Linked DNA regions of Homo sapiens. The protein of the gene in region 1 purifies or fractionates together with the protein of each later gene. This does not show direct contact. Each region holds a gene or a part of one and is shown on either strand. Other genes may lie near its edges.

Region 1 (7,933 bases):
TGTACAGATGTGAAAACTAACGCCCAGAGAGGTGATTGGCTCACCTGCAGTCACCATACTACTCCTGGGGAACCACTCATGTCCAGGCAAGATTGTGCTCATGAATACCAGCACATACACTGAGAGACGGTAAATACATGATCAACACACAGTTCCGTTCAGTTCAGGGGACCAAGTCAGACCACGGCAATCTCATCTAACACACACTCCGCCTCTTCCTGTTCCCTGCACACTTTTCTTCTCACCTTCTTCCCGTATTTCCTAAGTGCTCGCAGTTGCTTAGCTTTTTCAGACCTCTCCATGGCAGCCTGTTTAGTCTGCAGCTTCTGTCGAATCTACAACACAAAATGCTGTCAGTTCATGTCATTTGAATCTGGAATGACCACTACTTAGGATTCGCTAGAGCAGGGAACAGATATTCCCTGTTCTTTAAACTGCGGAACTTATAAATCATCAGTTCCAACCCCTGAGGACAATGGGGCCCACAGGCTGAGCACTTTACCAAAAGTGCCAGAGTGAAGCCAGAGATTGAAAGTCACCTTCCCGCTCCCAGTGTGCTGTCTGTTTCATTATACAAACTGCCTATTTGTAGCCCAGGAAAGAAGACAAACTTCTCCCCATTTCTACTGTCAGTAGACTGAGGCTGGAAACCAGTATGCGGCCTCAGTGTCCTTTTCTAGTATACCACATACACAATAAAAACCCAGGCAGATACCAGGTGCCTAGCCTTTTCAGTCAAACATACACATTTTAGTTAAAGGATGAGAAGTTGTCAGTGAGAATTTGTACAGAGTTCACAGTAAGAAGGTGAACTACTACCACGACAAAAGCTCCCTAAAATCCAGCTTGAGACCCCAGGGTACTATTTAAATATACTTATCCCTCAGTATCCATAGAGGATTAGTTCTAGGACCCACTACAGATATCAAAATCCACAGATGCTCAAGTCCTTTATATAAAAATGGTGCAGCATTTGCATATAACCTACACTCGCCTCCAGTATCCTTTAAAGTCAGAGGACCTCAACTCCCAGGCCACAGACCGCTACGAACCCACTATGAATCTGTGGCCTGTTAGGAACCAGGCCGCACAGCAGAAAGTGAGTGACAGGCAAGCAAGCATTACCACCTGAGCTCCACCTCCTGTCAGATTGGTGGTGGCGTTAAATTCTCATAGGAGTGCGAACTCTACTGTGAACTATGCATGGAACTATGCATGCAAAGGATCTAGGTTGCCTGCTCCTTATGAGAATCTAATGCCTGATGATCTGAGATGGAACGGTTTCATCCCAAAACTATCCCCTCCCCAAGTTCATGAAAAAATTGTCATCCACGAAACTAGTCTCTAGTGCCAGACCGCTTCTTTAAATAGTCTCTAGATTACTTATAATACCGAATACAATGCTATGCATCACCTCATTCTCATGGATTCAATGTAGTTCTCGGCACACGGAAAATTCAGTTTTCCTTTTGCAATATTTTCAAATTTTTTTCCCCAATATTTTTGATCCAAGGTTGGTTGAATCCACAGATGCTGAACCCATGGCTATGGAGGGCTGAATGTATGTTGGATTACATGCTGGCAATCCCTTCTTCCAAAGTTAAATGAGGTCCAAGTTCTACCCAACTCTAAATTGTACTATATCTGAACCATCTAAGAATCCCTCATTTTACAGAGGAGAAAACTGAGGCCCAGAGAAAAGTAATTGTCTACAAGTTCTAGCACTGACAGTGGCAAGGGCACAAGAATGCTGTCCTCTCTGCACACCATGTCATGACCATGCCAGCTAGGAAATGCACTGGGCCATCTTCACCTCGGGGACCACACTTCACACAGCACTGTTCCTCTCCTTAATTGCTGATTTTAGAAAAAATGTCATTTTTATATGCATCTAATTGGTGGTAACTGGCATGACTCTGAAGTAGCCAATCTATGGAAGAGGTAATAATTGTCCTCTGACAACTGGCTCCCCGTTATTGGGCTCATAGCTATCTTTCTAAGCCAGCTGAATATGCTTAAGTACAAAGTTTTGACTTTCCAGAGGAAAACTTCTATTTCTTACCTTCTGCATCTGCAGATCAGATTTGGCCATTTCCGCAAAATAATCAGTGGGTCGCTTCGTAGGGACTTTGAGCTGATGGAGGCGGGGTAAGACTGCAAGCACTGCGGCCTGGGCTTGGCGATAGCTGAGAATCGTAGGACAAAATGTGTAATGAGGTGAAGGAGGAGGCCTTACGTTCCTTTTCACCGCCAATCATGAGTTATCCAAGCTCAGAAGGACTCTCAAAATCTGACCTCCATTAGCAAGAACAAACAAACAAAAACTGTCTCACTGATTTAGTATCTAAAAGAAATGTAGCCGTATACTAGTTTTTAAAAAGGGGAGGGGTGTTGCTAAAAATAGTTTAAGAGAATGACTACTCTAAAGGTACCCATTAACACAAACGAATGTCGATTATGGATTCTTATGTAATTACTAAAGCAATTCCACACAAGAACATCCCATAAGCAATGTTTGTTTGTTTGTTTTCCTAATAACTGAAGCATGCACAAAAAGTTTTAACATGAATATTTCAAATTAGCCCATAAAGTGGATTTTGGATCGTGACCGTGGACCAAAGAGCTCTTCTCTCAAACAGGAAGAATCTCCTAGCTATTCTTAGTCAAAAGAAGCCGCTCTCTCTACTCCTAGGCTTATTCTGAGTGCAGACTTACTAATTTCCCCTCTTTCCCACTCTCCTGCACAAGGATCCTCAACTTCTCCAACATTTGAAAACAAACATACAAACTCATCTCTCGCTGGAAGTCGTCTTCTGGATCAACAGCTTTCTGGTCCTTGTTCTGAGGTGCTGGCGCCTCAGATCCACCGATCTCCGGTACCGGACCCAGTGTCACATCGAGCCTTTCAACCCATTCCAGATCCCGCTTGAATTCTGCCAAACATTGCTTCAGGCCATTCTAGGAAATCCAGACACTGAGCTCACAAGAAGGGAACTCTGAGTTTGTCTTTCCCAAGCACAGGCTGTTAGGCGAAGGGACAAAGTGCTAATCCCCAATACCCAGACAGGTAATTGACCCTCTTGGCGAGGCGCAGGGTGCATCTTTCCTGGGACAAGAATCGGTCTCCCAAGCCCAACAGCGCCTGAAGCGCATCCCATGTCCGAGTACCCCCGACCCTGTGCCCACGCTCACCACGTCGTTCACGGCCTTCTTCGGCCCCTCTAGCACGACATTGAGGCCTGGCTTCAGAAGCCCTCGGGAAAACGCATCCTGCAACTGCAGGACACAATCACGGTCACTCCCAGGGGTGTAAGGCCCCCTCTCCCACGCCCAGCCCCACGAGCTCGGCTGACACCTACCTCTCTGTCTGTGACAAGGGATTCATCGGATTCCGACTCCGAATCCGAGAGCGGGGGAGTGTCCATCTCGCCGCACGCACGTCCCACACCTACAGGAAGAAACGGGGTATCCCGAGACCCAAGCGGCTAGCAGAGGGCGGCCCTGGCCGCTGCTGCCTGCCTTCAGCCCCCTACTCCCACGCCGTGGCTCCACGTGCCACCGAATCGCTCCAGCGCCAGCAACTCACAGCTACTGCTCAACTTTTGATTGGGACTTCCGCTTCCGGCGGCAAACCATACTTCCGGTTTGTCGTTGCTATAGGAACCGCTACGGCGTTTGAAAGTGTCCGGGTTGCTTAGGATCCCTACAGGTAGCGCCTCTGGATACATGCGTGGTCTGCTGACCCAGAGAGAAACGAAAGGTGGGAGGGGGTACCTGGGGGTCGCCAGAAGGAGCTGGTAGCAGTGAGGGTACAAAGGAAAAGGCAGAAAAAGGAGCCGCGGGGGTGGGGTGGCGCGGAGGAGGACCCCGGGGGAGGGGAAAGGGGAGGGACAAGGGGAGGGGAAAGGGGAGGGACAAGGGGAGGAGAAAGGGGAGAGACAAGGGGAGGAGCAAAGGGCGGGGAGGGCGAGTCCGGGCCGGGGGCGGGGTCGGAGCGGGGCGGTGCTCTCCACTCTGAAGCGCTGCCTTGGTCTTCAGCAGAACTGTTTGGCGGGAGATCATGTCAGCCGTGGTAGCTCAGACGCTGCATGTTTTTGGTCTTCGATCCCACGTGGCCAACAATATCTTCTACTTCGATGAACAGATCATTATATTTCCTTCAGGAAATCACTGTGTGAAGTACAATGTGGATCAGAAATGGCAAAAATTCATTCCAGGTAAAACTTTTTCCATCCTGACATATACAGGAATGGTATGTGCCACATATAACCCCATAATCCCAGCATGATGATTGGAAAGAAAGATTTTGGCCAATTTGAATATATATGCAGTATTATAAATGTAGAGGAAATAAATGGCGACTTGTATTATGAAACTAGATTAATCAGTCACGCATATGTAGTTAAAATCACATATAAAATGTTAATTTAAAAGTACTTTTTTCACTGTAATTTCATGAAAATATGTTAAGAACCCCTCTTTTGGTGTCTTCAATATCACTGCCTTTGTCATCACCAGAGCCACTTTTTGAGTTGTCTAACAGTTTTCCTGAGCACACCACCTTCATTATATCACCGTTTGAATCCAAGTATGATGAAGACACTGTAAACTTTATCCCAAGTCGCAAATAACCATTTGTATAGCATTACAGCCCTTATTTTTGTTCACAGTGGTCCTGTTAATGATATTCATTATTTCAACAACCGAATCCATTTTCCCATTCTTTGTTGCATTGACACCTTTTATTGTGACATATACATACAAAAGAATGTACCCTACATATATGTCATATTTAAAGAATTACAATAGAATGTAGATCTGTGAACCCAGCCACCCAGCATAGGAAACAGAATATTACCAGTTCTAGTGCTTCTCCCTGTATTCTGTGTCTTGCTGCATCAGTTCAATGTCATGCTTTTGAGATTCACACATCTCGATACATATAGCCAAGTTCATTTTATTGCTATGTAGTGTTCCATCATATGAATATAATGTCTCAAATATATGTATTCACTCTAATATTGAGGGACATTTGGGAAATAACAATCATTTGCTATTACAAACTATACTACTATAAACATTCTTGCATGCATATACATTCATCTATTTGTGCAGATTCTCTAGGGCACACAGCCAGGACTAAAATTACTGAGCAATATGATAGTACCAATTTACACTCCCACTAGAAGTGCATAAGAGTTCTTATTCCTCAGCAACCCTGCCAACCCTTGGTATTGTCCAACTTCGTAATTTTTTGCTAACCCAATGGTTGAGAAAAGGAATTGTGGTTTTCGTTTGCATTTTGCTATCATTAATGATGATGAGTATCTGTTTATGGGCTATTCCTATTTAGTCGTATGTTAAATGCCTTGTTCAAGTCTTTTACTTGTTTTTTACAGTTTGTTGTGCAGGATATTTTTGGGCAATTTTATTGATTTACATGCACAATTTATATATTCTGTATATCAATAATTTGTCAGATATATATATATGTCTTGCAAATAATTTCTTTCAGTTTGGGGCATTTTTCTCCCATCTTACAAGTATCTTTTGATGGACAAAAATTATTAGTTTTAATAAAGTCAAATTTATCAACCACATAATATTCTGTTGGAATAAGCTGTATTAAATACAGTTGACTTTAATTTATTGATGTTTATTTCCAGCATATTTGCTAAATTATTATTAATTCTAATGATTTGTCTATAGATTATGCAGAGACTTCTACATAGACTATCATGTTATCTACAAATAACGATGACTTTCTTCCTTTTTCTTGTGTTACCTGTGCTGGTAAGCACCTCCAGACAGTGTTGATTAGGGGCAATAAAAATGGACATCTGGCCAGGTGTGGTGGCTCATGCCTGTAATTCCAGCACTTTGGGAGGCCAAGGTGGGCAGATCACGAGGTCAAGAGATCAAGACCATCCTCGCCAACATAGTGAAACCCCGTCTCTACTAAAAATACAAAAATCAGCTGGGCGTGGTGGCACGTGCCTGTAGTCCCAGCTACTCGGGAGGCTGAAGCAGGAGAATTGCTTGAACCCGGGAGGCAGAGGTTGTGGTGAGCCAAGATCGCACCACTGCACTCCAGCCTGGGAAACCAAGCCAGACCCTGTCTCAAAAACAAAAATAAAAAAGATCATATGACTTTCCAATATAAATTAAATTATGGTTTTCTACAGACAACATTAATTTATATTTGCTCTCATACTTACCAAACTTTTTCCCACCATTACTCTTTACAAATCAGATATTCCAGCTGGGATCATTTTCCTTCTGCATTTACTGATAATGTATTAATAAATTCTCCCAGTTTTTGTCTGAAAATGACTTTATTTTATCCTCATTTCTGAAAGATAGTTTCAACAGGTGTGAAATTTTTATCAGCATATTATAGATCATATTCCATTGTGTTTTTTTGGCTTCTCTTTTGTTGCTGTGGTTAAGAAATTAGCTATCAGCATCGTCTTTCTGTAGATGATCTTTTTTTCTGGATGTTTAATATCTTCTCTGTCTATGGTGTGTGTGTGTATGTATCTATACACATACACCATATACATATATACGTATAAAATACACACCATATATACACACACCATATACTATATGTACATGTATATATACATAGTATATATACATACATATAGATACAGACACACACATCAGTATAGTTTTTATTTTCATTTTTTATCCTCCTAGGGATTATTTGAGATTCCTGGATCTAAGGACAGGTATCTTTTTTGTTCTGTTATCTCCTTCTGGAACTCCAAACCATCTCAACTCCATCCTTCCAGTTTTTTATTTTATTTTATTTTATTTATTTATTTTTTAAGAAACCAGGTCTCACTCTGTTGCCCAGGCTGGAGTGCACTGGCACAATCATAGCTCACAGCAGTCTCAAACTCCTGGGCTCAAGCCATCCTCCCCACCTTAACCTCCTGAATAGCTGGGAATACAGGCATGCACCACCTTGACCAGCTAATTGTTTTTATGGAGATGGGGTCTGGCTATGTTGCTGAGGCTGGTCTTGAACTCCTGAACTCAACTCATCCTCCCACCTCAGCCTCCCAAGTAGCTGGGATTACAGGTGCAAGCCACCACACCTGACGTTCATGTTTTTGGGTTTTTTTTTTTTTGAACTCTTATTTGGATTTTTTATACCTTACTCTCTCTGTGTTGCATTCTAGATAATTACTTTAGATGTATCTCGTAGTTCATTGCTTCTCTTTTCTGCTGCATCTAACTTAATGTTTAATGTATCCATTGAGATTTTACTTTCAGTTATTGTGCTCATATTCTTACACTTCTTACTGTATCACTTCTCTTCTGCTCCTAACTCCATCTTATATCACCAGGGGCCTTGTACACATGTGGGTGGATCCTTGCAGCCCATATGTTCAAATTCTACCCATATATTCTATAAGCAACCACCCTGTGCCCATCCTTCAGGCCCAGGTTGAGTAGAGACAGCCTGGGAAGAAACCCCCAATGTTGGTCTTGTCAGCAGGCTCAAGACTATCTGAGCAGGGAACTCCAGAGTCCTGGGTACCTGCAACGTGATCTAGAAGAGGCAGGACAAACTCCAGGCAGCCACTGTATCCCACTTAATGGTAAGGGGTACAGCCAGAGAAAGACTCCGGGATGCTCTAAAATTTGAGGCCCAAGGGAGGATCTCCACTGACCAAGTCTAAGGGTATTACCGGTGAAGGGAAAAATATAAAGGTCATGACATTGGGAGACCTGGCTTTGATCTGGCTCCCCATTTTATAGGCTCACAGAGCCTCAGTCTCCTCATCTGTAAGATGCAGATGATGCTCAGCTTGTTCAGCTCAGAGTCATGATGAGGCTCAACATATTCATTTGTTCACTCAACAAAAATGTATTAAGTACCCCCTGTGTTCCAGGCACAAAATAGACACGCACATATGCA
Region 2 (7,850 bases), on another chromosome or scaffold:
ACATAATAATCCAATTTAAAAATAGGCAAAAGATCTGAATAGACATTTCTCAAAATAAGATATACAGGCCAGGCATGGTGGCTCATGCCTGTAATCCCATCACTTTAGGAGGCCGCGGCAGGCAGATCACCTGAGGTCAGGAGTTTGAGACCAGGTTGGCCAACATGGTAAACCCCGTCTCTACTAAAAATACAAAAATCAGCAGGGAGCGCTGGCTCACACTTTGGGAGGCTGAGGCAGGCAGATCACAAGGTCAGGAGTTTGAGACCAGCCTGGCCAACATGGTGAAACCTCTCTCTACTAAAAATGCAAAAATTAGCCAGACGTGGTGGCTCACGCCTGTAATCCCAACACTTAGGGAGGCCAAGGCGGGCGGATCACAAGGTCAGGAGATTGAGACCATCCTGGCTAACACGGAGAAACCCCATCTCTACTAAAAATACAAAAAATTAGCCGGATGCGGTGGCGGTCGCCTGTAGTCTCAGCTACTCGGGAGGCTGAGGCAGGAGAATGGCGTGAACCTGGGAGGCGGAGCTTGCAGTGAGCCAAGATTGCGCCACTGCACTCCAGCCTGGGCGACAGGGCGAGACTCCGTCTCAAATAATAATAATAATAATAATAATAATAATAATAATAATAATAAAATAAAATAAAATAAAATAAAAATACAAAAATTAGCCAGGTGTGGTGCCAGACGCCTGTAATCCCAGCTACTCAGAAGGCTGAACCAGGAAGTGGAGCTTGCAGTGAGCCGAGATCACGCCACTGCACTCCAGCCTGGGCAACAGAGCGAGACTCCATCTCAAAAAAAAAAAGAAAAGAAAACGTGGTATGTATACACAATGGAGTACTATTCAGCCATAAAAAATAAGATCCTGGCCAGGCACAGTGGCTCACACCTGTAATCCCGATACTTTGAGAGACCGAGGCAGGTGGATCACCTGAGGTCAGGAGTTCGAGACCAGCCTGGCCAACATGGTAAAACCCCGTCTCTACCAATAATACAAAAATTAGCTGGGTGTGGTGGCACACACCTGTAATCCCAGCATTTGGGGAGGCAGAGGAGAGCAGGATAGCTCAAGCCCAGGAGTTTGAGATCAGCCTGGGCAACATGGCAAAACCCTATCTCTACAAAAAAATTAGTCAGGCATGGGGGTGTACACCAGTAGTCCCAGCTACTTGGGAGGCTGAGGCAGGATGATCACTTGAGCCCAGGAAATCAAGGTTGCAATGAGCAAAGATTGTGCCACTGCATTCCAACCTGGGCTACAGGAGACCCTGTCCCAAAAAAGAAAAAAATGAGGTTTCAGTAGCTTCTATGCAAGGTGATAACTGCAGAGAACTGAGACTCAACTGAAAATAGGTGATAAAACATTTTGTTGTGCTATTTATTAATTAAAGGACAAAAGAGCAAGATGAAAGACCACTAATATTTTTTGAGCTCCCACTACATGCCAGGTACACCATTGTCACACCTGGCCCACAGGAGATCTTCAATAAATGTTTGTTAAAGGGATGAATGAAACCCCAACCTTCATTCTGCAAAGGAAATGAAAGCTCAGGAAGATTCAGTGATTAAGATCACATTGTAAGTACTGGCAGAGCTGGGGCTTGAACCCACGTGAGCTGACCGATTCAAATTTACTGCTGCTTAACAACTCACCCTTACATTTAGTGGCTGAAAACCGCAATGTACTATTTGTCACAATCAGGGTAGACAAGATGCAGATGGTGGTTCTGCTGGTCTTGTTTGGGGCCTTACATGGCTGCACTGAGATGGTGACAGGGGCTGGGACACACAGGATGGCTTCACCCACACGTCTATCTTGGCCATTTGTGGAAACTAACTACCATAGGTGGTATTTCATGACCCTGTAAGCACCCACAAATTGCACCTGGTTGGATATTCTGCCTTAGAAAGATCATTCTGGCAGTAGAAAGTGCCTTGAAGGGGAAACCAAAGGTTTTGTAAAAAGTCTACTTTGGTGGTGAAGACCTGAGCCTAGACAGGAGCAGTGCACCCAGCAAACAGTCCAAGCGGAAGGCAAAGATGGTCTACTCCACCACAGGTTGCAGAGATGCCCCCTGGATAACTGGATAACAGTGTCAAGGATAACAGGAGTCCTGTGTTATCCCACTAGAGTCAGACTACAAGTATCAGGGTGAGATATTTTATTGAAGGGATGGAGATGAGAAAACCGAAGGAAACCTTTTAATGTTCATACCACATCCATATCTGATCACAAGCATTGGTTATCTCACCAGCAGAAGCACTTTTCTTCAGCCATCTCTGTAAGTCAGCAAACTACTTCATGACAGCTCCTTTGTAACCAGAGGACCCAAATTTTTCCAGAGTACGACTGGTTACCTTTTGGCTCATTGATTGACCCTCAGGTTTTTTATATTCTGATTTAACACACAAAAGTGTGTTCATATAGTTACATATATATGTATATATGAAAAATATTTGTGTACATATTTCTATATATGTATGTAGAGCTGAGACAAAAGTTTTACAATGAACAGCACCTTACTCTAAGCAACACACTCTTATTTCTATTCGCTTTAATCCTTTTTCTTTTTTTTTTTTTTTTTTTTTTTTTTGACAGAGCCTTGCTCTGTTGCCCAGGCTAGAGTGCAGCCTCTGCCTCCCGGGTTCAAGCGATTCTCCTTCCTCAGCCTCCCGAGTAGCTGGGATTACAGACATGCTCCACCACGTCCAGCTAATTTTTTTATTTTTTGGTAGAGACGGGGTTTCACCATGTTGGCCAGGCTGGTCTCGAACTCCTGATCTTAAGTGATCCGCCTGCCTCGGCCTCCTAAAGTGCTGGATTATAGCCCACCCAATCCTATTTTTTTAAATGCTGTCCATTAATGCATTCTGACTTCTTGCTTGAAAACCCCTGGTTTAGTGGATAAGCACCTGTAACTCCAGGAAGATTCAGGATTAAGGGCAGAAATAATGAAGTAAATTGAAGTATTAGCATTAGTATTTTCCATTACATTTTGGAATCGTCTATTTTGATGTATTCACGACGGTTAAAATAATTTAACATGCTAATGTATGGATTAACTTGGCAATTCCATTTTAAAATATTAAATGGAATAACGATTCTGACTCGTAAGTAGACATGTGTAACAGAATTCAACCACATCTGTAAACCATATTGAAATTATGAGAGTAAGATTTACCAACCACATTTAGGTTTGACATATTAGATTTGTGAGTGAACTATGTACTTGGATTTTGTCAAGTAACTCAATCGCTTAACAAAATAACAATTAAATGTATAAATGCAGTTTATAGCTATACATTATTTTTAAAAATCCCCTTCGAATGACTCTTTAAAACATACCAGGGGATACGCTACTTAAGTATAACTAGGTTTTGGATTTATAACGTTAATATTAATTATTAAAGCAAAACTCATTTCTAAAGAGTCGCCTGAGTGCCCAAAAGACGCCCTCAAGGACAGGGAAGCAGCTGCGATTCACTCAGCGATCACCAGCGCCCAGAATTCAGGGCCGCCCAAGCGGAGGAGCAACACGTGGCCCAGCAAAAGGAGCTGGGTCCCGTGCAGCACAGCAACAAGAAACTGGCCTAGGAAGACGCTGGAGCGTCTTTCTTTCGCACGTTACTGCCTGCTACAGTCATTTAAAAAAAAAAAACCAAAAACAAAAAAAAGAAATAAATTAATAGTACGAAGAAAACTGCGCGAGCTACATTCCCAGCAGGGTCTGCGCCAGAGCGCGCCAGGCACCGCTCCCGTTACGGGTGGGAGGAAAGGATGCACCGCCCACCCGGCGCCGGGGAGGCTCGTCCCCGAGTAGGGGACGGGAACGCCTGGGTCCCGGGGACGTGGGGCGCAGGGTCTGGGGCCCGAGGCCACGGACGAAGCGGGAAGCCGGCTAGGCAGCGGTCTCTGTCTGGGATGGACGCCGCGCCCCACGCGGACCTCCCGCCCCGACTTCACCCAGCTCTGCTGCCCGTAACTCATATGACAAGAACATCAGGAACCGGACTATTACCCCGAAAGGGCCTTCCCAAGTCGTTTCGCCGCCTGCAGTGCCCGACCGGGGGCCGCGCGTCCCCGGCAACCACGCCCGCCCGCGCAGCTGCAGAGGCCGGAAAAGGCCCGCTCGCCCGCGCTCGGCACCACCCAGCCCGCGCTCCGGGCGATACCACCCTGGGCGGCCCCTCCAAAGGCCGGAGATGGTGTCGTCCCCGGCCTCCGATTGGTCGGGGGGGCGGGGGCGTGGCCTCTGGAGCCTGGTTCCGCGCGCCGGAGCGCGCTAGCCGCATTGCGAGCCGAACCCGGGAGCTGGCGCCATGGTGAGGAGTGGTTGCGGGGCGCGGGCGACGCGACGGTGGGGGTTTCGGCCTGCGTTCGGGCCGCAGACAGGGCCTGGGCCTGGGCCTGGGCCTGCGCCTGCGCCTGCGCCTGCCCTGGGAACGGGTTCCGGCAGACGCTGAGGTTGCGTTGACGCTCGCGCCCCGGCTCCCGTTCCAGGTGCTGTTGCACGTGCTGTTTGAGCACGCGGTCGGCTACGCGCTGCTGGCGCTGAAGGAAGTGGAGGAGATCAGTCTGCTGCAGCCGCAGGTGGGTGAGATCCGTGGGCTCCTTTGGCGGCCCCGCAGACCCTCATCGCGCGGGTCCCAGCATGCACAGCGCGCTCCCACGTGGCCGGCCGAGCGGTTCGGGGCGGGGGGACGGGCCTGGAAAGCTCTAGATCCGGGGGTCTTTACCTTGACCCATGGGTAGAATCGCTCTAGCAATTAGAAATAAGCCTCCCGGACGCCGCCCCCGAACGATTAAAGCAGAAGCTGGGATGTGGGGCCCAGGTATCAGCATATTTTAAGAGCTTCCAAGGCTGAGAACCGCTGCTTGACTGCGCCGCAGAGGCAGGAGGGAGGGAAGGAAACCACTTAGCCTCTTTCTCCCCCCAGGTGGAGGAGTCTGTGCTCAACCTGGGCAAATTCCACAGCATCGTTCGTCTGGTGGCCTTTTGTCCCTTTGCCTCATCCCAGGTTGCCTTGGAAAATGCCAACGCCGTGTCTGAAGGTAAGTCGGCCACCGCCAAGTGTCACAGAGAGATGTGGTTCCTTTCGGTATCCTCTCGGGCAGCTTGTGATAGTATTTGCCGTCCTTGGCTGGCTCTGAGTCTGATAGGCGTGAGGCAGTATTTGAGCCATACAATGTGTAATTTGAAATAATTGTCTTCACAGAGCTCAAGGTCTGGGAACTGTGCTAGACCAAACTGTTTAAGCAGACGATGTGGAATGTGTGTTAACGTTTCCTTGTGGGCACTGTAGTGACAAACTATTTTTTATTTTTATTTTTTTTGAGATGGAGTCTGTCCCCCAGGCTGGAGTGCAGTGGCAAGATCTGGGCTCACTGCAACCTCTGCCTCCCTGGTTCAGGCGATTCTCCTGCCTCAGCCTCCCGAGTAACTGGGATTACAGGCCTGTGCCAGCCACCACACCCGGCTAATTTTGTATTTTTGGTAGAGACGGGGTTTCACCATGTTGGCCAGGCTAGTCTCCATCTCCTGACCTCGTGATCCGCCCGCCTCGACCTCCCAAGGTGCTGAGGTTGCAGGCGCGAGCGACGGTGCCCGGCCGACAAAGGGGGGTTTCTTAAAGGGGGTCGGCTTAACACCTACTTGTGCCTGAGGTTTTGCCTAAACACAATCAAGTGTCTGGTTCTCTGCTTTCTGTTCGATTGGAAAGGGCAGTTGGGTAAACACAGGCTGAGAAAAAAAGGTTTGGTTCCAGAAGGCAAATTCTACGAAATACTCGAGGGTGTGTTACAAGCTATTATTTATTGCCCACTTGTGCTATCAGACCTGAATGCAGTTGTTCCCATGGCTGGGCCAGGCTTTGCAGTGATGACTTGCGAATCAAATCTGTCAATCCCCTGAGTGCAATCACTGATGTCTCCATGTCTCTGAGCAATGCCTGATGGGGAGGGATCTAGGTATGCCATCCCAGCGTGCTCGGTGGGACCAGGGTAGTCAGCTGAGGGATGTTAGAGTTGATCGTCCTTCAGCCTGTTAGTGGGAACTGTGTTCTTTCCCCTGAGGGGTTGTTCATGAGGACCTCCGCCTGCTCTTGGAGACCCACCTGCCGTCCAAAAAGAAGAAAGTACTCTTGGGAGTTGGGGATCCCAAGATTGGTGCCGCAATACAGGAGGAGTTAGGGTACAACTGCCAGACTGGAGGAGTCATAGCTGAGATCCTGCGAGGTGAGACCATCATCTGTTATATTCCTGTTATCCTGGACATTTTGGGGGAGGAGGTTCTGGAAACTTGGTTGCTTGTTGTGATTTCTGGGAAGGCCTTCAGGCTGGGCTGGTGCCCGTGGGTGCGGGAGCTAGCTCAGAGCCCCTTGTTGCTCACCGTCTTGCCCTCTTCTTAGGAGTTCGTCTGCACTTCCACAATCTGGTGAAGGGTCTGACCGATCTGTCAGCTTGTAAAGCACAGCTGGGGCTGGGACACAGCTATTCCCGTGCCAAAGTTAAGTTTAATGTGAACCGGGTGGACAATATGATCATCCAGTCCATTAGCCTCCTGGACCAGCTGGATAAGGACATCAATACCTTCTCTATGCGTGTCAGGTAAAGTGCAGGGGCCACCCATAATACTGGAGCCTTTGGTCTGTAGTTCAGTTAATTTTGAGTCTTGATGAGGACTGACCATCCTGTGGGTAGAACCATGTGGGCTGGGGCTGGGTGTAGGCCTCCTGGTGCTTACCACAGGCTGTGTTCTTACACTGACTGTATAGAAAGAGGAGGTAGAGTAAACCTACCCCATATACACCTCAGCTCAGGCCCTGTGCCTGGTCTGTATTGTGAATGGGGGAACATAGAATTGAGGAAGATTTGGATCTTTGTCCCATTTCCTCCAGGCAGAGTAGGTGTGGAGAAGGCAAGGCTGTAGCTCTATGGTTTTTGATGAAGCAGCTGGGCCAGGGAGTGACTGTGGCTCTTTGCAGGGAGTGGTACGGGTATCACTTTCCGGAGCTGGTGAAGATCATCAACGACAATGCCACATACTGCCGTCTTGCCCAGTTTATTGGAAACCGAAGGGAACTGAATGAGGACAAGCTGGAGAAGCTGGAGGAGCTGACAATGGATGGGGCCAAGGCTAAGGCTATTCTGGATGCCTCACGGTCCTCCATGGGTCAGTGCAGAGCCTGGCAACCTGCATAAGGTATGGGGCTCTAAATAGCTGGCCTCTTGCATTCACACTTGGTTTTTCCTAGGCATGGACATATCTGCCATTGACTTGATAAACATCGAGAGCTTCTCCAGTCGTGTGGTGTCTTTATCTGAATACCGCCAGAGCCTACACACTTACCTGCGCTCCAAGATGAGCCAAGTAGCCCCCAGCCTGTCAGCCCTAATTGGGGAAGCGGTGCGTCACAGGGGACTCAAAAATGGGAGAATAAGGACTGTTGCCATGTGCACCTGCACTGCTGTATTTCGTGACCCACCATGTCTTCCCTAGTTGTGCTTGATGGGGAGGTGGGGAGCAGGGCTGTCGTGCAACTGGGCAGGTCAGCAGTTCATTTCTCTGACTGCTTCCTTGACTCTCTCTCCAGGTAGGTGCACGTCTCATCGCACATGCTGGCAGCCTCACCAACCTGGCCAAGTATCCAGCATCCACAGTGCAGATCCTTGGGGCTGAAAAGGCCCTGTTCAGGTACCAGTGAGGGCACCTGCCCACAATCAGGTGCCACTTCTGGTGCCCACTGCTTGTTGGGGGATCACGGTGATGGCTGACCAGGGCTCCCTGACCTATACAGGCCTCTGCTATGGGGGTGATGGCCAGTCCTGGTGTCTGAGTGA
Region 3 (7,549 bases), on another chromosome or scaffold:
TAAATTCATCACAATGTTGATAGTCCCGCCTCTCACGTGGCCTTGTCTTTTACTAAAAAGGGAGGTTGAGAGGCAAGTACTTAAGACCAGAAAGAATAAGCAATATACGTAGTGCAGAACAAATGGCTTTTTGGGGGTTTACTGGATGGGCAGTTTCCTCCCCAGCCCCAAGGTTCCAAAGTGTCCACTGGTCTATCCATCTAGCGTGAGTTCTATTCCAGAACTGCTTTTTGGGAGATGGGAGTCTCGCTTTGTTACCCAGCCTGGAGTATAGTAGTGTGTGCTCAGCTCACTCTGCTTCCCGGGTTCACGTGACTCTCCCGCTTCAGCCTCCTGAGTAGCTGGGACTACAGGAGTACACCACCATGCCCAGCTAATTTTTGTATTTTTAGTAGAGATGGGCTTTCACCATGTTGGCCAGGCTGGTCTTCAACTCCTGACCTCAGTTGATCTGCCTGCCTCGGCCTCCCCAAGTGTTGGGATTACAGGAGTTAGCCACTGCTCTTCCCTGAAGCTCTTCCTTGTCCTAGGAAACCTGACTAATCTGTTCCTGCACCTCTTTCCAGAGTGGTCTTCAGGACATAATCCTCAGACCTGCTAAAAGTAGGAGAAGCTGCAGCAGCCTTCAAGTCAGCACCAGGGCTGCAGGAGCAGGTCCCCTCACCAGCATTTCAACCAAGTTAGTTAGGGCTGGGATACTGGAAACACGCACTAAGCCATTTCCATTGGGATGGGTGAAGCAAGTGGCAGAGCTGGCTTTGCCATGCTCTCCAGTGACATTCCAGGGGAAACACTCTTTAGGAAGTAACACGTCTGGCACCAGAGTTGACTTTTAATTTGTCCTAAAGCCGCTGAAGCAAAAACCATGATAAAACATTCTGCTTTCTTTTCTTTTACAACCCCACGAACGCAAAAAAAAAAAAAACAAAAACAAAACAAAAAAAAGAAACAACAACAAAACCCAAACTATTTGTAGGAAAAAATGGTTTTGTACATGGGATGAAACAATATAAATTCAAAACTTACAGATAAGGGTTAGCTCTATCACTCAACTCTTTAAAAAGTTTATATGAATATCCAGTCAAAACCAACACGGTATTGCCCTTGAAATGTTAACTAGACGGATTTCCAAGGAGACCACAGGACTGTATACTGTCTTGGAATGTCCTCAGAAGGCTCTGTCATTGATCAGGTAACAGTAAAAACCCCAGAGTCCTTTCTTTCAAATGGAAAAGGGAAAGCAGAGGGACAGAAGCTATTCAAACTTCGTCTTCTTTCCTTGTGGCTTGTGGTCACCTCCTCCTCCTCTGCCTCCTCGGAAGCCTCCTCGCCCTACAGGAGGAAGGCAAGACACTGTTAAAAGAATGGGTACAAAGCTCCTCCTCCCCAGTGATTAGGAACCGTGACAGGGCACAGGGTCTGAAGAGCACATGCTATGTGGTGTCATTATCTCTGCGTGCCTTACCTCCAAAGCCTCCCCGGCCTCTGCCACCAAATCCTCCTCGGCCTCCTCTACCACCACCTCGTCCTCCAAAGCCGCCTCTGCCTCCACCACGACCCCCGAAGCCACCTTCACCCTTAGGTTTGGCCCAGTCCAAGGTAACTTTATTTCCATCAATTTCACCGTCTTCCATGGCCTCCTTGGCAGCTTTGGCATCCTCCTCACTGTTGAAGTCTACAAAACCAAACCTAGAACACCAAATGAAATTGCCCATTATAAAAAGCACCTACTACACATGTCCCAAGTTAACTGTACATGCTGGGGAGCCATCCCACAGAAAGTAGCCTTGTTTATTTGGGAAAAGATACCAGTGACAGAGTAGCTCTCTATGGAAAACTAACTGGTGTGACAGCTTGAACCCCAGAATGTCTCACAATACAGCTAAATATACCTCTGTAAAGACAGAAGGTAAAATAATGCTAGTTCTGTGAATTCTCTCTTCTTCTCGTGCGAATCCATAAACTGCCACTGATAGACAGAAAGGAGCTCAATGAGAAGACACATTAGACTCAAGGTCTGCACAGAACAAAAACCCCTTCAAGTGGAAGCAGCACTCACGCTTCCTTCCCTTACCCTTTGGAGGACCCAGTTTCCCGGTCAGTAACTATCCTTGCCCGAACGGAGCCGTCAAATGACTCCTTTAATGTCTCTTCAGTGGTATCCTCAGACAGGCCTTTGACAAACAGAGTTTTGGATGGCTCTGGGAAGGAAAAAAAAATGTGACTTTATGTGAAGTCACAGTTCGTAACACTGAATTTGCACAATGCCTAGTATGACTACTAGCCAAGAATACTTGTTATAGTGAAAAAGCAGTTAAAAGCAACTAAGCCAACTAGTCCTTAATTAAAGTAAAGGCTATTCTGGGTTTACATTTTTTAATTGCCATTGCATAGTTGATATCCTGCCCCAGATCTTCTATGGAAAGTGGGAGAAGCAACCCAAGCAGGTGGGGCCCAGTGGATGGGGCAGGAAATCATGGGCAAACTTGCTACTCTGAGTTGACACAGCTGGATCAGAACTTGACTATCTAGAGGAATTTTCTTGAGATTTCATCAATTATTTCTCAGGTAATCAGTCATCATATCCAGTTATTGTTCACTCAGTAGCAACAGGAAACACAGAATTTGTGCAAAAAATAAACAAAGCACCGAGAGTGCTACCCCCAACCACAGCACCCTAACCAGGTGAACTTACGGCTTCTGGCATTAGGTGATCCCCTGGGTCCTTGCAACTCCAGCCTGATTGCTCTGCCCTCAATTTCCCTTTTATTACAGGAATTTAAAGCTTCTTTAGCGTCTTCGAATGAAGCAAACTCTATAAATGCATACCTGAGGATGAACAGTTAATGCTTAGAGTAAGTTACCAGGCACATGCTCCTTCACTGTCACATGATGCTGCCAAGCCCCTTCTCTCAAGTTGGTACCTAAATGATGATCTTTATTTTACACTCATTTACGTAGCTAAAATTATTTGGCTTTTCTGACAGGATCACATGACCTTACGTTCCTTTAGACCTCTAAGACATATATAGCCTATAACTGATGATACAAAGGTATTATCTTACCCTTTAGATTTGCCATTTTGGTTCTGGGGTACTTTGATAAAAGTTGCTTTCTCAAATACTTCCTGAAGAGTTTCTTCTGTTGCACTGTAGGAGAGGTTGCTTAAAACCAGAGTTTTTGATTCACCTGCAAATAGAGATGCCACATTCCTAAGACTCTGAAACAGTGGTTCCCAGCTTCGGTCACAACAGTAATATCTTATTCCTAAGAATTTCAGTGCTTGAGTTAATATACAAATACTCATGACGTAAGCTAAATCCATTTCTGTTACTCAACATATTAAGTACCTAGTACGTGTTGCAATGTCCTGCTGGTTGTTCTTACATAGGCTGATGACTGGTCTGTTTTCCTAGAATCATCTGAGTTCAAAACGCACATGGTCAAGTCATTTAAAGTATAAAACATGCCTACAAAGGAAGCTTGATTTGCCTACTGTATTCCAATGCAAAATGATTTTAGAGCTCTCATTCAAGATTGGAAATTACTATTCCAAATAAGAGTATGACTTGGGGTATCATGTCCTTGATCTTCACCTACATTTGAGTAACTTTGATTAAAAAGTATTTATAAACTTATGAAATACAAAGACACAAAGGAGTTCCCTCCACCAATTCTGAAACCTTGTAACAAGCCTAATTTCTTACCACTCCAAGTGCTATTCTTTCCACCTCTATAGTCTTGATTTTGACCTTTCTCTCCAGTATAGTACAGGGAAATAGATCGCCCATCGATCTCTGTTCCCTGCTTTTCTTCAAAGGTTTTCTCTGCATCAGCTTCTGTCTTAAATTCAATATAAGCAATCCTGCAATGGAGGGAGAAGAACTCATGGTTTTTAAAACCATATTAACACAAATGCTTTTACCTCAGCAACACAGAACTTGCTTCAGATCTGAGTACAATAAATGCCCTTAGTTTTATGCCACTTTTCAATCAAAACTCGAGCTTCCCTCTTACTTCCCACTAGTTTTACAAATACTTGGAATTTTTTCATAGTAACCTCACCTCACTGAAAGAACTGCTACTACTTACAAAGTATTTATTGTAAGATAGGCACATTTCTTGCTTCTTTGTAAGTATTAGCTTGTCTTTTAAAATCACCCTATGAGTACATTATCCCCATGGTACAGATGGGTTACTGAGGCACAAACTTACAGGTTAAACTGTCCAAGATTACACGCCTAAGGAAATCAAACCAATATTTCTTTTATAAAGCAGGAAAGTGCATTAATGTTAATAAAACCCTTACATTTCAATAGACAGAACATACCCTTTACTTTTCCCATCCTTGCTGACTAATCTGATCTCCGCAGCATCTTCAAACACTTCTTTCAATTCATCCTGAGTGACTTTGTAAGGGAGATTTTTAGCCAAAAGTGTTCTCGCATCTCGCTCTAGATTAAAAAAACAAAAATGAGCTCTGTGGCCTGAAAAACCAAAGGTGGGGGGCAACAACAAAAAGAGGGGAAAAACACACATAGCTCTATTCAACAAATAATTTGAGATCCTATAATGTACAAGGCTCGGTGCTAAATATGGAGATATAGCAGTGTCAACACACAAGTGGTCCCTCCATGTTGTCACAGCTGATGTCAAACTCTCTGTTAGGTACACTGGAGTTCAACCTAGAGTAGACGCGCATAACAAAAAAAGTGAATGTACCAATTCAAAACATTACAACTGTATATAGGGAGTAATTAGGGACCTAATCTAGTTTCAGTGAAGAAAGATCCCTTTACGTTAATTTAGGTGCATCTAATAATTCTTGTTCTGTATAAAAGTGCTCTTGCTTGCCTAACTCAGGAATTTACACTATAACACTGACAAGCAGTGCCAAGTACTCTTGTAAACACTGTAGCTCATTTAATTCCCACATTAAGAGGAAACCAAAGGAAAAAAATGATTTAAAAAAATAAGAGGAAACCAAGGGAAATGGGTTACAAAGCATTTTCCCTAGCAGTCTAGCTCCTGAGTTCATTGCATAATCTCATAAAGCCTTACATACCTTTCTTACTGTCTTTTCCTTTTGGTTTCTCTAGTTTAATTTCATTGCCAAAGACTTTCAAACCAGTGAGTTCCAACGCTTTCTCCAGGTCTTCAGCAGATTCAAAATCCACATAACCAAATTTCCTTCAAGGTGGAGAGGAGGGCAAAATTACAACAGGTGAAAACACAAATCAAAATCCACAATATGTATTCTAGACAAATGTGATGGTGCAAACAAAGATCACATTTTAAAAAGCACCCCTAGTATTAGCAAAACAAAGTCAAGGCTCTGCAAACTGCAGCTACAGAACAAGGTCTCAGCATGAAGATATGACATGCACATTCACGTTTGAGGTCTTCATCATGGAGCTAAATTGCTTATAAGAATTCACAGTAGCAGCTGACAAAAGAACACCTATAAGCACTAATACAGGAGAATCCTGTCTGGATAAAAGTATTCACTATGATGACTAGACAGGTCTAATAGTTTCAGGTACTTCCAAGAAAATAAACATTATTTTAAATTGAGACGGTGTCTCAATCTGTTGCCCAGGCTGGAGTACAGTGGCGCGAACTTGGCTCACTGCAACCTCTGCCTCCCAGGTTCAAGCGATTCTCCCACCTAACACCAAATTATTAAAACTTACTGGCAGGGTGGCTCACGCCTGTAATCCCAGCACTTCGAGAGGCCGAGGTGGGTGGATCACTTGAGGTCAGGAGTTCAAAACCAGCCTGACCAACATGGTGAAATGCCATCTCAACTAAAAATACAAAAATTAGCCAGGCATGGTGAAGTGCACCCGTAATCCCAGCTACTTGGGAGGCTTAGGCAGGAGAATCGCTTGAACCCGGGAGGCAGAGGTTGCAGTGAGCCAAGATTGCGCCACTGTACTCCAGCCTGAGCAAAAGCCAGCGTCCGTCTCAATACATAACAAAAACAACAAAAAAACTTACTAAAAATTATTCTGTGCTATACCAAGTTACGACTGATTATGGAAATTGCAACTTAGGGGATCTACAGTTTAATTCTAACTTAGTTCACTAATGCTAATCCTTGAAGATGTTTACAGTATTCATGTTTAACAGTAGCAGGCTAAAGTAACTGTGCTAACAGGGGAAGGAAAAGCATTAACAGACCCACGTGTATGTAACGTGCAGTGAAGCACTTACCTAGTCATACCAATTCTGACATCCACAACAGCAAGATCATTTTTAGCAAAAACATCGCTGATACCAGTTTTTAATTCAGGAGCAGATTTGTTAAAGTTTAGGTTTCCAACAAAGAGATTGAAAGCCGTAGTCGGTTCTGTGCCTGCACAAAAAAAGCTCAACTCAGTCTACTTGTAGTGTGGTAAAAAGTTAGTTTCCAAAGCAAAATTTCTATACACAGCACATCAGCACACTACAATGTAACATCAGGTTTCAGTATTAAGTCCCTTTGTTATTCATCATTTGTGCTGTTTATCTCCCCCATATCCCCTAATTCTGCAAGTTACCTTCCACTTTCTGTTTCTTGGCTTCAGGAGCTGCTTTCTGTTTGGCCATTTCCTTCTTTCGTTTTCCAGGTGCTTCTTTGACAGGCTCTGGACAAGATGTCAAACAATGTATCACACATCAGTAGCCACAAACACTTAAGTGCCTCCTTTAAACATAACTCATGTCGTATGTCAGAATCTAATTTAAGTACCTTCCTCCTCCTCTTCTTCCTCCTCCTCATCATCTTCATCATCATCATCTTCATCATCTTCGTCGTCGTCGTCATCCTCGTCCTCATCATCCTCTTCTTCATCTTCATCCTCAGCCACGTTCTTGGCTTTCACAGGAACAACTTTTGCAGCTTTCTTTCCTTTGGCTGGTGTAGTCTCCATAGCTTCTTCTTCAGAGTCTGAAAGAGAAGTCACCTAAAAATTGCAGCAATCTCCCAAAACCAACATCGGTTTTCAAATCTAATGTAAAGAAAATGCAATCCTGTCACCATGTTTAGTTAACAGTCATGGCAAGAATAGATCACTTGGGGCCGGGCGCAGTGGCTCACGCCTGTAATCCTAGCACTTTGGGAGACCAAGGTGGGTGGATCACCTGAGGTCAAAAGTTCGAGACCAGCCTGGCCAACATGGTGAAATGTCGTCTCTACTAAAAATACAAAAATTAGTAGGGTGTGGTGGTGGGCACCTGTAATCCCAGCTACTCGGGAGGCTGAGGCAGAACTGCTTGAACCCAGGAGATGGAGGCTGCAGTGAGCCGAGATAGCGCGCCATTGCACTCCAGCCTGGGAAACAGCAAAAGCTCCATCTCAAAAAAATTTAAAAAAAAAAAAAATCACTTAGAAACAAAATCCTACATTATAAAAAACACTAATAGAATGTGCTATTGAAATTTTCTCAAGAGGCACAAAAATCATTCATGGGTAATTAAGTCTAGCACACCACAACAACCCAGAGAATTCCCACAAGGATTCTAATCTCATCTCCAGGTTGTCGTGGAAGGAATATGTTGATCCCAG

What was found. Proteins that work in one complex are often made in the same cells at the same time.
Region 2: the proteins of EBNA1BP2 (region 1) and NOP56 purify together in Homo sapiens (affinity purification with mass spectrometry; 4 studies listed by BioGRID and IntAct, with this or other methods). This does not show direct contact.
Region 3: the proteins of EBNA1BP2 (region 1) and NCL purify together in Homo sapiens (affinity purification with mass spectrometry; 3 studies listed by BioGRID and IntAct, with this or other methods). This does not show direct contact.

The regions. Positions count from the first base shown.
Region 1 is NC_000001.11:43,168,694-43,176,626, forward strand, and holds the start of EBNA1BP2 (probable rRNA-processing protein EBP2), read right to left. Parts: upstream 3,587-7,933; 5' UTR 3,449-3,586; coding exon of another isoform or gene 3,426-3,448; coding exon 3,360-3,425; intron 3,277-3,359; coding exon 3,193-3,276; intron 3,020-3,192; exon of another isoform or gene 2,959-3,019; coding exon 2,786-2,958; intron 2,187-2,785; coding exon 2,063-2,186; intron 336-2,062; coding exon 246-335; intron 1-245. Other genes in the region: CFAP57 (cilia- and flagella-associated protein 57), read left to right, coding at 4,061-4,217. UniProt on the Homo sapiens protein: Required for the processing of the 27S pre-rRNA.
Region 2 is NC_000020.11:2,648,331-2,656,180, forward strand, and holds the start of NOP56 (nucleolar protein 56), read left to right. Parts: upstream 1-4,301; 5' UTR 4,302-4,330; coding exon 4,331-4,333; intron 4,334-4,446; exon of another isoform or gene 4,447-4,511; coding exon 4,512-4,601; intron 4,602-4,948; coding exon 4,949-5,063; intron 5,064-5,881; exon of another isoform or gene 5,882-5,956; intron 5,957-6,083; coding exon 6,084-6,245; intron 6,246-6,418; coding exon 6,419-6,617; intron 6,618-6,736; exon of another isoform or gene 6,737-6,868; intron 6,869-6,994; coding exon 6,995-7,182; intron 7,183-7,264; coding exon 7,265-7,416; intron 7,417-7,603; coding exon 7,604-7,704; exon of another isoform or gene 7,705-7,850. UniProt on the Homo sapiens protein: Involved in the early to middle stages of 60S ribosomal subunit biogenesis. Required for the biogenesis of box C/D snoRNAs such U3, U8 and U14 snoRNAs. Part of the small subunit (SSU) processome, first precursor of the small eukaryotic ribosomal subunit.
Region 3 is NC_000002.12:231,453,936-231,461,484, forward strand, and holds part of NCL (nucleolin), read right to left. Parts: intron 6,932-7,549; coding exon 6,734-6,931; intron 6,630-6,733; coding exon 6,543-6,629; intron 6,508-6,542; exon of another isoform or gene 6,433-6,507; intron 6,359-6,432; coding exon 6,217-6,358; intron 5,191-6,216; coding exon 5,066-5,190; intron 4,455-5,065; coding exon 4,331-4,454; intron 3,866-4,330; coding exon 3,708-3,865; intron 3,190-3,707; coding exon 3,066-3,189; intron 2,830-3,065; coding exon 2,696-2,829; intron 2,589-2,695; exon of another isoform or gene 2,509-2,588; intron 2,202-2,508; coding exon 2,075-2,201; intron 2,002-2,074; exon of another isoform or gene 1,865-2,001; intron 1,690-1,864; coding exon 1,466-1,689; intron 1,333-1,465; coding exon 1,256-1,332; 3' UTR 1-1,255. UniProt on the Homo sapiens protein: Nucleolin is the major nucleolar protein of growing eukaryotic cells. It is found associated with intranucleolar chromatin and pre-ribosomal particles. It induces chromatin decondensation by binding to histone H1.